Linked DNA regions of Homo sapiens. The protein of the gene in region 3 purifies or fractionates together with the protein of the main gene of each other region. This does not show direct contact. Each region holds a gene or a part of one and is shown on either strand. Other genes may lie near its edges.

Region 1 (3,500 bases), on a different chromosome or scaffold from region 3:
ATGCAATTCAGGATATAATAACAAAAAAGTATGATATCCACAGGAGTAATGTATGAATACTTAATTTGTAGGCAATAGTTATCACATTCAAAGTCAATATTTGCAAGATGAAGCATAACTAGAAGAGGGAGACTAGAACAATAAAAAGCCATATCAAATGGGAAACTTAGTGTTTTGAGTTACTGGAACCAAAACTTCATCAAAGTCTGTTATACATACAAATGCCTTGTGTCTGTAGCTTTTGAGAAAATTGAAGAAAAAAGCCACAATACTATATTTGAATTAGCTTAGAGCATGTTTAGTAGTTAAGAGAATTTGAAATGCTTGCTTGGAGATGTTAAAGAAATATACCTTATGTCTCAACACATATAGGCAGTCATGGCTACTTACCTCTTACTGGTCTATTCATGCAGAAATTATTCAAAACTGGCAAGAGCTGCTTTTGTCTTCTAAGAACATAGCATAATGCTTATCAGTGAAAATAAAAAGTCAAACATTTGGAGAAAGGGAAAATTCAAAGTTCATGTCCATTTTCCTGGGGTACAAAGGATAGACAGAATTTTTATGATAGTATTATTTCTTTAGGAAAAAACAGGATACTAATTACATCATTTTTCCTTTATAGAAAATCCACCTATAAATCCAGGGATTGTATGAACACACCAAACAACCTTTGGTTCTGTTGCTCTTCTGAATCCCAATGTGATTAAAATGTTCCTGAGGTTTCCCTAACCACCAACTCAGGTTCTAAGTATTTAGGATGTAGTAAAGATAAAATTTTGTTAAAGAGACAGCTAAAGCTAATTTTTACATAGAAAAAAATGTATATTTATATCCCTAAAAGGCAATACAGAATTTATAACCAAACCATGTGTGAGAACTGTTAAATTACATTCCAAATACCAGCAGTGGAACAAACAGAAACACAGAGATGTTTTAAAAAACATGCAGCACGTTACAAAGAGGCCGTGTAATAATTCACAACTTTTGTTAGCAGCCGTTAAGTTTGATTAGTATTAAGCAGCAATGGTTTAAGCAATTTTAAATCATGATATGATAGTTACATATATGCATTTTACTGTTCCAATTATAGTTTAGTAATAGGTCAGGGGTTTGAGCAACATTTTAAGCATTATAATTTTCTCCTAAATTATTTACTATGGGAAATTGGCTTCCACTTAAGGTTTTCATAGAAACTGATGGTTATTTTATGAGGGAGATGTCTGGACGTATGTGTGTATGTGCATGTGTGTGTGTGTATATACACACACATATATAAATTAGAATTTGCAGATATTATGTGTATATATATACACACATATATAATATATATATTATATATATATATAATTTTTTAGTCATGTTTTTAGTCATTTGCTTTTTTTTTTAGTCATTTACCGGTTTCTCATAAGACATCCAGTCACTTCTTTTCCCTTGCCCTTTCCTAACACTGTTCCTAACATTTGGGTACCACCCCTTAGCTCCTGCGACCCATGTGGTTTTGGAGAAAGCTGATCACACTCACGGTGACAGGCCATGGTTGGAAGTAACATGTTCCACTTTTCACGAAAAGTAATAGATCTGAATATCATTCATGGTTAACAATAGATAGTGTGACATTTGGGTATGACCTGCTGGTAGAAATAGGGCATGATTCCCTGGAAGTAAGTCACTTACACCAACCCAAGTTCTAATTCTTTAAGATGTAGTAAAGACAAAATTGTTCTTGCTATATTAAAATGGAAGAAAGGATTTGCAGAGTTCAAGGATGATATGCTCTAGCTCTATATGCACTCCGCTATCAATCATTCCTTTTACTTTCTGCCTTGAAAAAATCATTTTAATAAAATCAAAAATTTTCATTCTAAAATATAGTTCAATGATTTCACTACCCTTTATGAACAAAAACAGCACGAATCCTCTAAAGAAGAAAATTGAGCCAAATTGTTATGTTTTGCCTAGATATTCACACAATATTTCACACCATAATAGAAAAAATAATTTTTCCATGAGAAGTCAAGAGACCTGTATTATATAATAGTTCAAACTTTTAAAAATTAACATGTACAATACACTGCAGTATAACATAATTTTTGTTGGAGGGGTAGATGAAGATAGTGGCTCAGTTTCCTTTGTGTAAAGCAAGTGAACTTGGTCGATTTAACTTAAAATTTCTATTAGCACTTAATATCTGCAAATTTTAATTTAGGGCTCAACATGTGGCCTTGCCATTTAAAAGAGCTATCAGCCTTAATAGCTAACACAAATTCTTTTATTTCAGTGTATTATATAGGAGAAACAAAAAATGCTATAAAATTCATGTTTCTAATGAACAAAAATGTTAAGGTTTATGACTATGCATTGTATAGAATTACCTAATATTTTTATATCTGAAGTAGACCTTTTGTAAGTACAGTACCTACATGTTTTTTTCATACATTCATACTTGCCTTCGCAGTTTCACATCTGTATAAATCTTATGATCGTTCTCTAATAAGTACACAAGATTAACACTACTTATGAAATATGGACAAATATATTACTACTCATTATAACCCATCCAGATTATTAGTTTAACTCATTCAATTACTACAAAGATCCTTACAGAGCTGAATTTAATATACAATAGAACATCACTGCCCTCTGATGGTATCACTAATATATAATTTTAAATTCAGCAAACAAAAAATCCTTTATCATAAAGTAAAACAGGGTATGTTAATTTTATAAGCTACATAAATAAAAATAAATTGGAAAAAATTTTACATCTGCCTAAGAATACTCATTACTAAGTTATAAAAATTTACAGTGCTCCTTCACATCAGCCCTTCAAATGATTTTTTCAAGATTCTCCCTGATGATCAGTTTAAAGGCACTAAGTCCATAAGTTTAATCAAACATCTTCATAGTGAAATAAAAACAGATGTAACGCGATGCAGCACAAATATAAGTAGTTAGATCATTTTATAAAGGATGAAAAGACAACTGCGAATTTTAATCTTAGAGGTATATGCAGAATGTTTACATGCAGTGTATGTATATTCACTATTTAGTTCCATTTTTTAACTACTAAGAAAAATAGCAAATCACCCACTAACTGCAGAAGAGCAAATGTAGGAAAATCAGTATTTAATGAAAAGTCTAGCCATTCTCTAAGCTTGAAAATCAACGTTTTTTTAGCATTGCACTTAAGGGCAATAATATTACAAAGTCTGAATCTTCATTTACTCAAAGAGAAGAAATTAAATTGATGAAGCCCACTTGATTGCAGATAATAAACAGTTATTGGCAGTAGATTCTTCTACTCATGTTATGCTTTATGAAACTGTCCACTAGAAAAGATAAAAAAGAGACAGAAAAGTAAATTTTACTTGAAGTTATATAACAGTACTTCAGTGAACAAACAGGTAAAAAGAGGAATATGGGACATAGAAATACAAAATGATTTTTCTGAATAGCAGCTATTCATAAAATTTTACATTATAGTCCAAAGCCTGAAA
Region 2 (3,500 bases), on a different chromosome or scaffold from region 3:
AGGGGCGTGATAGAATCTGGTTTACATTCTAAAAGACATTACTATGGCTACTATGTAGAGATTAGAATGGAAGATTATCAGGAGGTTAGGAAGATCTGTAGTCATCCACTTCAGAGATGAAGGTGACATGAGCTAAAGACAGCAGCAAAGGTGATGACAAATGGTCAGACTTTTAAAATCTGTAGGTAGACCCTACTACATCTGGCAAAATGACCAGCTAATAGGTCACTAGGCATATTTCTTCTTCCTTCTGGACAAATGATGACTGTATGTCTCAGCCTCTCTGTGAAGTATGGCCACGTAATAGTTAAGTTCTAGCCAACCCAACGGATAGAAGGGATATGCACCACATCCAAGTCTGGCCCATGAAAACCTCCCAGCTGCCCTCTCCCAACCAGGGAATTCCCAGGACACTGAGCCCTGGAGGAGGGCAGCCAAACTATGCAGGCACCTGGGCCCCTAAATGACCACCTGGAAGGCCACCCACTAAGTGGGAATATAGCTTTTCACTTTCATGTGAGCAAAAATTAATTTCATTTATGGCATATACTGAGATATAGGGGTTTATTTCTTATAACATCTCTTGCTACTCTAATACAGAAATACACTATAGAAATTGCTGAAAATTTGGATGTCGGTAAGGACAAGTGAAGATTTGGGACGATTTCTATGTTTGTGGCCAGGGCAACTGGGAGAAGGGAAAAGACTGAAGAAGACTGCAAGTTCTGAAAGATCAAGAGTTTTGTTTGGATATAGTAAATCTGAAGTGTCCACTGATGTCCAAGTAGAGATTATAAATATGCAGGATGAAGCTAAGGAGAGCAGTGGGACTACATTTGAGAACGATCAGAATGTAGACGGGGTTTAAAAGAGATGATCTGGGTAAGATCACCAGAAGATTTATTATGAGGACAAAAGACTGAGTCCTGGGCAAGCCAACATTCGGGGATCAGAAAGAAGAGGAGGAACCAGCAAGAGATAATTCTAGTGAGTGCTATGAGGCAGGAAGAAAACCAAGAGAGGTTGGAATTTCAGAAGCCAAGTGAAGAAAGGAGAGAGCAGACAAATATGTTGAATGCCGCTAAGAGGTCAGGCGATCAGAGGGCAGCAAACTGACCCCTGGATTTGGTACAGCAGCTTTAACAGAGAAAGCCTACCGGGAATGGTTAAAGGAATCATTCAGGTAAAGGTTTTGGATCAAGGTAACACAGTAACTCTACAGTGGTAACCCCATCTACGGTTTTGCTTTCTGAGGTTTCAGTTACCCACAGTCAACTGCAGTCTGAAAATATTAAATGGAAAATTCCAGAAGTAAACAGTTCCTAAGTTTTCAATTATGCACAGCTCTGGATAGTGTGAGGAACTCTCTTCCTGTCCTGTTCCATCCCACATGGGACGATGTCCACACTGTAGGTGTCACACTCCAGTCACTTAGTATCCATCTGGGTTACGACTGCTGTGGTATCTCAGTGCGTGTGTTCAAGGAATCTATACTTTACTTAATAATGGCCCTAAAGCACAGTAGTAACGATGCTGGCAATTCAGATATGTCAAAGAGAAGCCATAAAGTGCTTCCTTTAAGTGAAAAAGTGAAAGTTCTCAACTTAATAAAGGGCTGGGCGTGGTGGCTCATGCCTGTAATCCCAGCACTTTGGGAGGCCCAGCAGGCGGATCACTTGAGCCCAGGAGTTCAAGACCAGCGTGGCCAACATGGCGAAACCCCGTCTCTACTAAAAATACAAAAAATTAGCCAGGCATGGTTGTAAGCACCTGTAGTCCTGACTACTCAGGAGGCTGAGGCAGGAGAATTGCTTAAACCCGGGAGGCGGAGGTTGTAGTGAGCCAAGATTACACCACTGCACTCTAGCCAGGGCGACAGAGCGAGACTCCATCTCAAAAAATAAATAGGCCAGGCACAGTGGCTCATGCCTATAATCCCAGCACTTTGGGAGGCCGAGGTGGGCGGATCACCCAAGATCGGGAGTTTGAGATCAGCCTGACCAACATGGAGAAATCCCATCTCTACAAAAAAATACAAAATTAGCCGAGCGTGGTGGCACATGCCTGTAATCCCAGCTACTCAGGAGGCTGAGGCAGGAGAATCACTTGAACCCGGGAGGCGGAGGTTGAGGTGAGCCGAGATCACGCCATTGCACTCCAGCTTGGGCAACAACAGTGAAACACCGTCTCAAAATAAATAAATAAATAAATATATGAAAATTAGCCAGGTATGGTGGCACACACTTGTAATGCCAGCTACTTGAATGGCTGAGACAGGAAAATCGCTTGAGCCTGGGAGACAGAGGTTGCAGAGAGCTGAGAGCACACCACCGTACTCCAGCCTGGGTGACAAAGTGAGAATCCAACTCAAAAGAAAAAAAAAAATTAAAGAAAAAAAAGCTCATATGATGAGGTTGCTAAGATCTATGTTAAGAACAAAACTTGTATCCATGAAATTGTACAGGAGGAGAAAGAAATTCATGCTAGTTTTGCTGTCGCACCTCAAGTGAAAAAATTCCAGCCACAGTACATAACTGTTATTATTGTGTATTGTTATAATTTTTCTATTTTATTAGTTATTGCTGTTAATCTCTTACTGTGCCTAACTGATAAATTAAACTTTAGCAGAGGAATAGATGTATAGGAAATAACATAGAATATATACAAGGTTCAGTACTATCTGAAGTTTCAGGCATTTACTAGGATCTTAGAATGTATACTCCAAGGGTAAAGGGGGGACTCTATACTCCCAAAGCACTTCCCCAACTCCTACTCCTGGCCAAGATGGAGTAACAGGGACCAGATTTACCCTCCTGCCTGAACAACCAAAGCTCTGCACAAAATAAATAGAACAATAGTTTCTGGCCGGTTGTGGCGACTCACGCCTGTAATCCCAGCACTTTGGGAAGCCAAGGCAGGAGGAACACTTGAGCCCAGGAGTTCGACACCAGCCTGGGCAACTTAGGGAGATTCCATCTCTACAAAACTTGAAACAAAATTTAGCTGGGTGTGGTGGCATACGTCTATATTTCCAGCTACTTGGAGAGGCTGAGGTGGGAGGATCACTTGAGCCGGGGAGGTTGAAGCTGCACTGAGCCGAGATCACGCCACTGCTCTCCAGCATGGGTGACAGAGCAAGACCCTGACTCAATTAAAAAACAAACAAACAAACAAAAAACACTAAAATCACTGTTATGCTCTGGAGATACTTAGAAATACTGAATAACTGTATACTTTATTGGAAAAAATTAAGAGTTCAACTAAGGAAGAAAGCCATGGAAGAAGCAAATACCAGAGAGGAGAGTGAAGGCTAATCAGGGCAATAGAAGACAAGCCAAAATATGCAATGGGCAAAAACTAAGGAGGGACTTAATTTCAAGAAAGTGGTATCAAGCGTATTCAATACTTCAGAGAAGTGGAGAGGAACAAAGTCTGGAAAAAAGCCATTGGATTGGTTAATTAGTTGGCCATTTATGACCTTTCAGAGAATGACAGTGAGA
Region 3 (3,500 bases):
GTGTGAATCACACTACCTGCTGATAAAGGAAATTGTGGCTGGGAATATATTTTGCATAATGGATATGCAGATTGTGGTGGCTGGCAGCCAATATTAACCTGTTCACTGGGAATGACAACCTAACTGTACTCTAGATTTGCTTCTTCGTCTCTACATATATGTGTGGTTTATGCTATTTTATGAATTTGAACAGGGCTAAAAGAGTAAATTATTATAAGGCCGGGTGCTGTGGCTGACACCTGTAATCCCAGCACTTTGGGAGGCTAAGGCAGGTGGATCACCTGAGGTTGGGAGTTCGAGACCAGCCTGACCAACATGGAGAAACCCTGTCTCTACTAAAAATACAAAATTAGCTGGGCATGGTGGTGCATGCCTGTAATCCCAGCTACTTGGGAGACTGAGGTGGGAGAATTGCTTGAACCCAGGAGGCGGAGGTTGCAGTGAGCCAAGATTGTGCCATTATACTCCAGCCTGGGCAACAAGAGTGAAACTCCATCTCAAAAAAAAAAAAAAAAAAAAAACAAATGATTATTAAAGAGTAAATGAACGTTATTGGTTTCCTTAATCTTTTTTAAAATATTTACTTATGTATTTATGTTTTTTCTTTTCTATTTTCACACAGGAGGCTTTATTATTATTATTATTATTATTATTATTATTATTGAGACAGAGTCTTACTCTGTCAACCAGACTGGAGTGCAGTGGTGCAATCTTGGCTCACAGCAACCTCTGCCTCCTGGGTTAAAACTATTCTCATATCTTAGCCTGCTGAGGAGCTGGGATTACAGGCAGGTGCCACCGCACTTGGCTAATTTTTTTTTTTTTTTGTATTTTCAGTAGAGACGGGGTTTCACCATGTTGGCCAGGCTGGTCTCGAACTCCTGGCCTCAAGTGATCTGCCCACCTTGGCCTTCCAAAGTGTTGGGATTACAGGCGTGAGCTACTGCCCCTGGCCTATTATTTAGCTTATTTCCCACACCACACTGATGTAATTTCCTTAATCTTTGGTCCATTCACCTAAGTCAACGTTACTGCCTTCCTTTTCCTATTCCTCACTGGAGATAGCATTGGCATTTAGAACCAGGCATATGGAAATATAATTTGATTCTCTTAGGCAGGCCAAGTTTTGCTGTTAGGTGGGCTCCCCCCACTTAAGGCATATTAAAATGTAATGTTAAAATGTATTTCCAGGAGTGTAGGGAGGGGTTGGGGTGAAGTGGGGGGGAGGAAACAGAACAGAATGTTTTAATGTGTCTCTTTTCTCCACAATTAAATCCACTGCCAAGATGTCTTATAAAACATTTAAAATCGAGTTTAAAAAAAGCCACATGCTTACCAGCTGCGACTCCAAAAGTAATGAAGAGATAATGCACGTTTGCAGCATAGGCACTCAACACCCAGCCCAGGGAGTTGACGAGCCCTCCAATGATCGCAGTCTGGCGGCACCCACAGGTGTTAATGAACAAGCCGATGAAAGGGCCTGTCACAGAGCATTGGAAAAGGAATTGACTAAAGGTGCTTCCGTTTTATTCTTTCTCATAAATCTTCATGTGAAGACAAAGAATAAAATGTCACTAGAGCTGTTAAATGACACAAAAAGCCCCCATTGCTTTATATGCCAAACATTTTTAGCATGCAAAGATGATTTTAAGTAATTTCATCAGAGAGCACAAGGTTCTGGATTTTCAGGAAAGGCAGACCTGAAATAAATAGACATTCATTCTTTCATCTACAAGAAAACCAGTGGTCTAGGAGCTATCTCTAGCCTGTGGATACATTTTGTCGATCCCATACAAAGTCTAAAAAATGTCTGGAATTAGTTGCCAATGTTTAAAAATTAAGAGGATTCACAAAAAGTCCAGTGGCAACACAGACTACCTTCCCACAGGACCAAAGTTAGTTGGAGCTGTGCAGTGGCTGAGCCCGTTTGACTGGGACACACCCCTTCCAGTTTGCTGCAGTCTCTATCCTTCCCTCTGGTCTTAAACCTGGCCTCAATTACATTATTTCTTTGGCTTCTTTCCAAATAGAAAGACATTTCAGTTTTTGACTAAAATAGAAATATTAAAAATGTATTATGTATAATGAGGGAAAAAAAGAACTGTTATCGGGTCCTTCAATCAATGGTTTTTAAACTATGCTTCAAGGATACAGAAGTGCTTTATGTGTGTGTCTGTGTACAGACATATATTCCAAGAAGCAACTTGGGGATTTATATGGACGGTAGGTTATTATGTTCACCTTCTCCTCCTATCAAAAGATACATACTTAAGCTTATATGTTTTACATAGGTATCTATATAACCATATTTACCTGTTAGCTAACATTTACTGAGCACTTTGCTAAGTGCTTTATACAAATTATGTCATTTAATGGTTTAACAACCATGTAAACTAAGCTCTCTTCATTATACCCATTTTGCAGATAAGGAAACTGAGACCAAAAGGGAGTACAGGAAGGGAGTCTTCAGAACTCCTGGGCTTCAGGCAGAAAACTAATAGCCTGTTTTCATGAGGATACCCAGATTGAAACCAAGCTGAAAAGAGCTAGTTGTCATCACTTCATACAGACTCCCATCCCGGCTGGTGTGCACAGTCTCTGACCAGACCTATCAGGCTATGGAGATTCGGGAATCCATTTCCATTGTGTAAAATGTGACAACACTCACAGCAGCACAGTATTTTATGAGACGCATTCTGATTGTTTCCTTTACGCTGACTTTCTAGTTTTGTTTTGTTTTCTTGTTTTTGTTTTGATACAGGGTCTCACTGTGTCATCCAAGCTAGAGTTCAGTGGTGTGATCACGGCTCACTGCAGCCTTCACCTCCCTGGGATCAAGCGATCCTCCCATCTCAGCCTCCTAAGTAGCTGGGCCTAGAGGCTTGTGCTATCATGTCCTGCTAATTTTGTATTTTTTATAGAGATAGGGTTTCGCCGTGTTGTTCAGGCTGGTCTAGAATTTCTAGGCTCAAGGGATCTGTCTGCCTTGGCCTCCCAAAGTGCTGGGATGACAGGCTTGAGCCATGGCACCTGGCTGACTTTCTAGTTCTTAATTGTCAACCTTCTTTATTCTCCTCCTGATTTTGTAGTAATTTCTGATGTCACTGAAGCTGAAAGCTTATCTTGTGATCAATGATTCCTTGTTTAAATAGGAATCCAGATTTATATGAGCTAGTACTCAATATTCAGTAAGATGGCATATTTTAATTATCTTATTTTTGATCATTACAAAGTTATGAAACCTTATATGCAGATGAACTATATTAAAAACTTGTTTAAAGAGCTTCCCTTTTGGCTTAAACTGAAATAAAGTTTCCTTTAAAGTTCTAACTATATTCATGTGTATATCTGGGTACAGTCAGCTAATGAGTTTATTTTGTCTAGTGGTTTTGTGGGTGCCTAATCCTAAAAACTATGAAGGTGAAGACTTATTAATTTAATTAACTCTGTTGCATTACAGGAAATAATTCAGTAAATTAACTCCTTAGAATAGACTTAAT

The links. The genes of interacting proteins can lie anywhere in the genome.
Region 1: the proteins of SLC16A14 (region 3) and SVIP purify together in Homo sapiens (affinity purification with mass spectrometry; one large-scale study listed by BioGRID and IntAct). This does not show direct contact.
Region 2: the proteins of SLC16A14 (region 3) and CLCC1 purify together in Homo sapiens (affinity purification with mass spectrometry; one large-scale study listed by BioGRID and IntAct). This does not show direct contact.

What each region holds. Positions count from the first base shown.
Region 1 is NC_000011.10:22,819,802-22,823,301, forward strand, and holds part of SVIP (small VCP/p97-interacting protein), read right to left. Parts: intron 3,333-3,500; coding exon 3,318-3,332; coding exon of another isoform or gene 3,311-3,317; 3' UTR 536-3,310; coding exon of another isoform or gene 515-535; 3' UTR 1-514. UniProt on the Homo sapiens protein: Negative regulator of the ER-associated degradation pathway (ERAD) of misfolded proteins. It competes with AMFR/gp78 for binding VCP/p97, and inhibits AMFR/gp78-VCP/p97 complex formation that is required for degradation of ERAD substrates.
Region 2 is NC_000001.11:108,956,985-108,960,484, forward strand, and holds part of CLCC1 (chloride channel CLIC-like protein 1 isoform 1 precursor), read right to left. Parts: intron 1-3,500. UniProt on the Homo sapiens protein: Anion-selective channel with Ca(2+)-dependent and voltage-independent gating. Permeable to small monovalent anions with selectivity for bromide > chloride > nitrate > fluoride.
Region 3 is NC_000002.12:230,048,425-230,051,924, forward strand, and holds part of SLC16A14 (monocarboxylate transporter 14), read right to left. Parts: intron 3,331-3,500; exon of another isoform or gene 2,425-3,330; intron 1,481-2,424; coding exon 1,337-1,480; intron 1-1,336. UniProt on the Homo sapiens protein: Proton-linked monocarboxylate transporter. May catalyze the transport of monocarboxylates across the plasma membrane.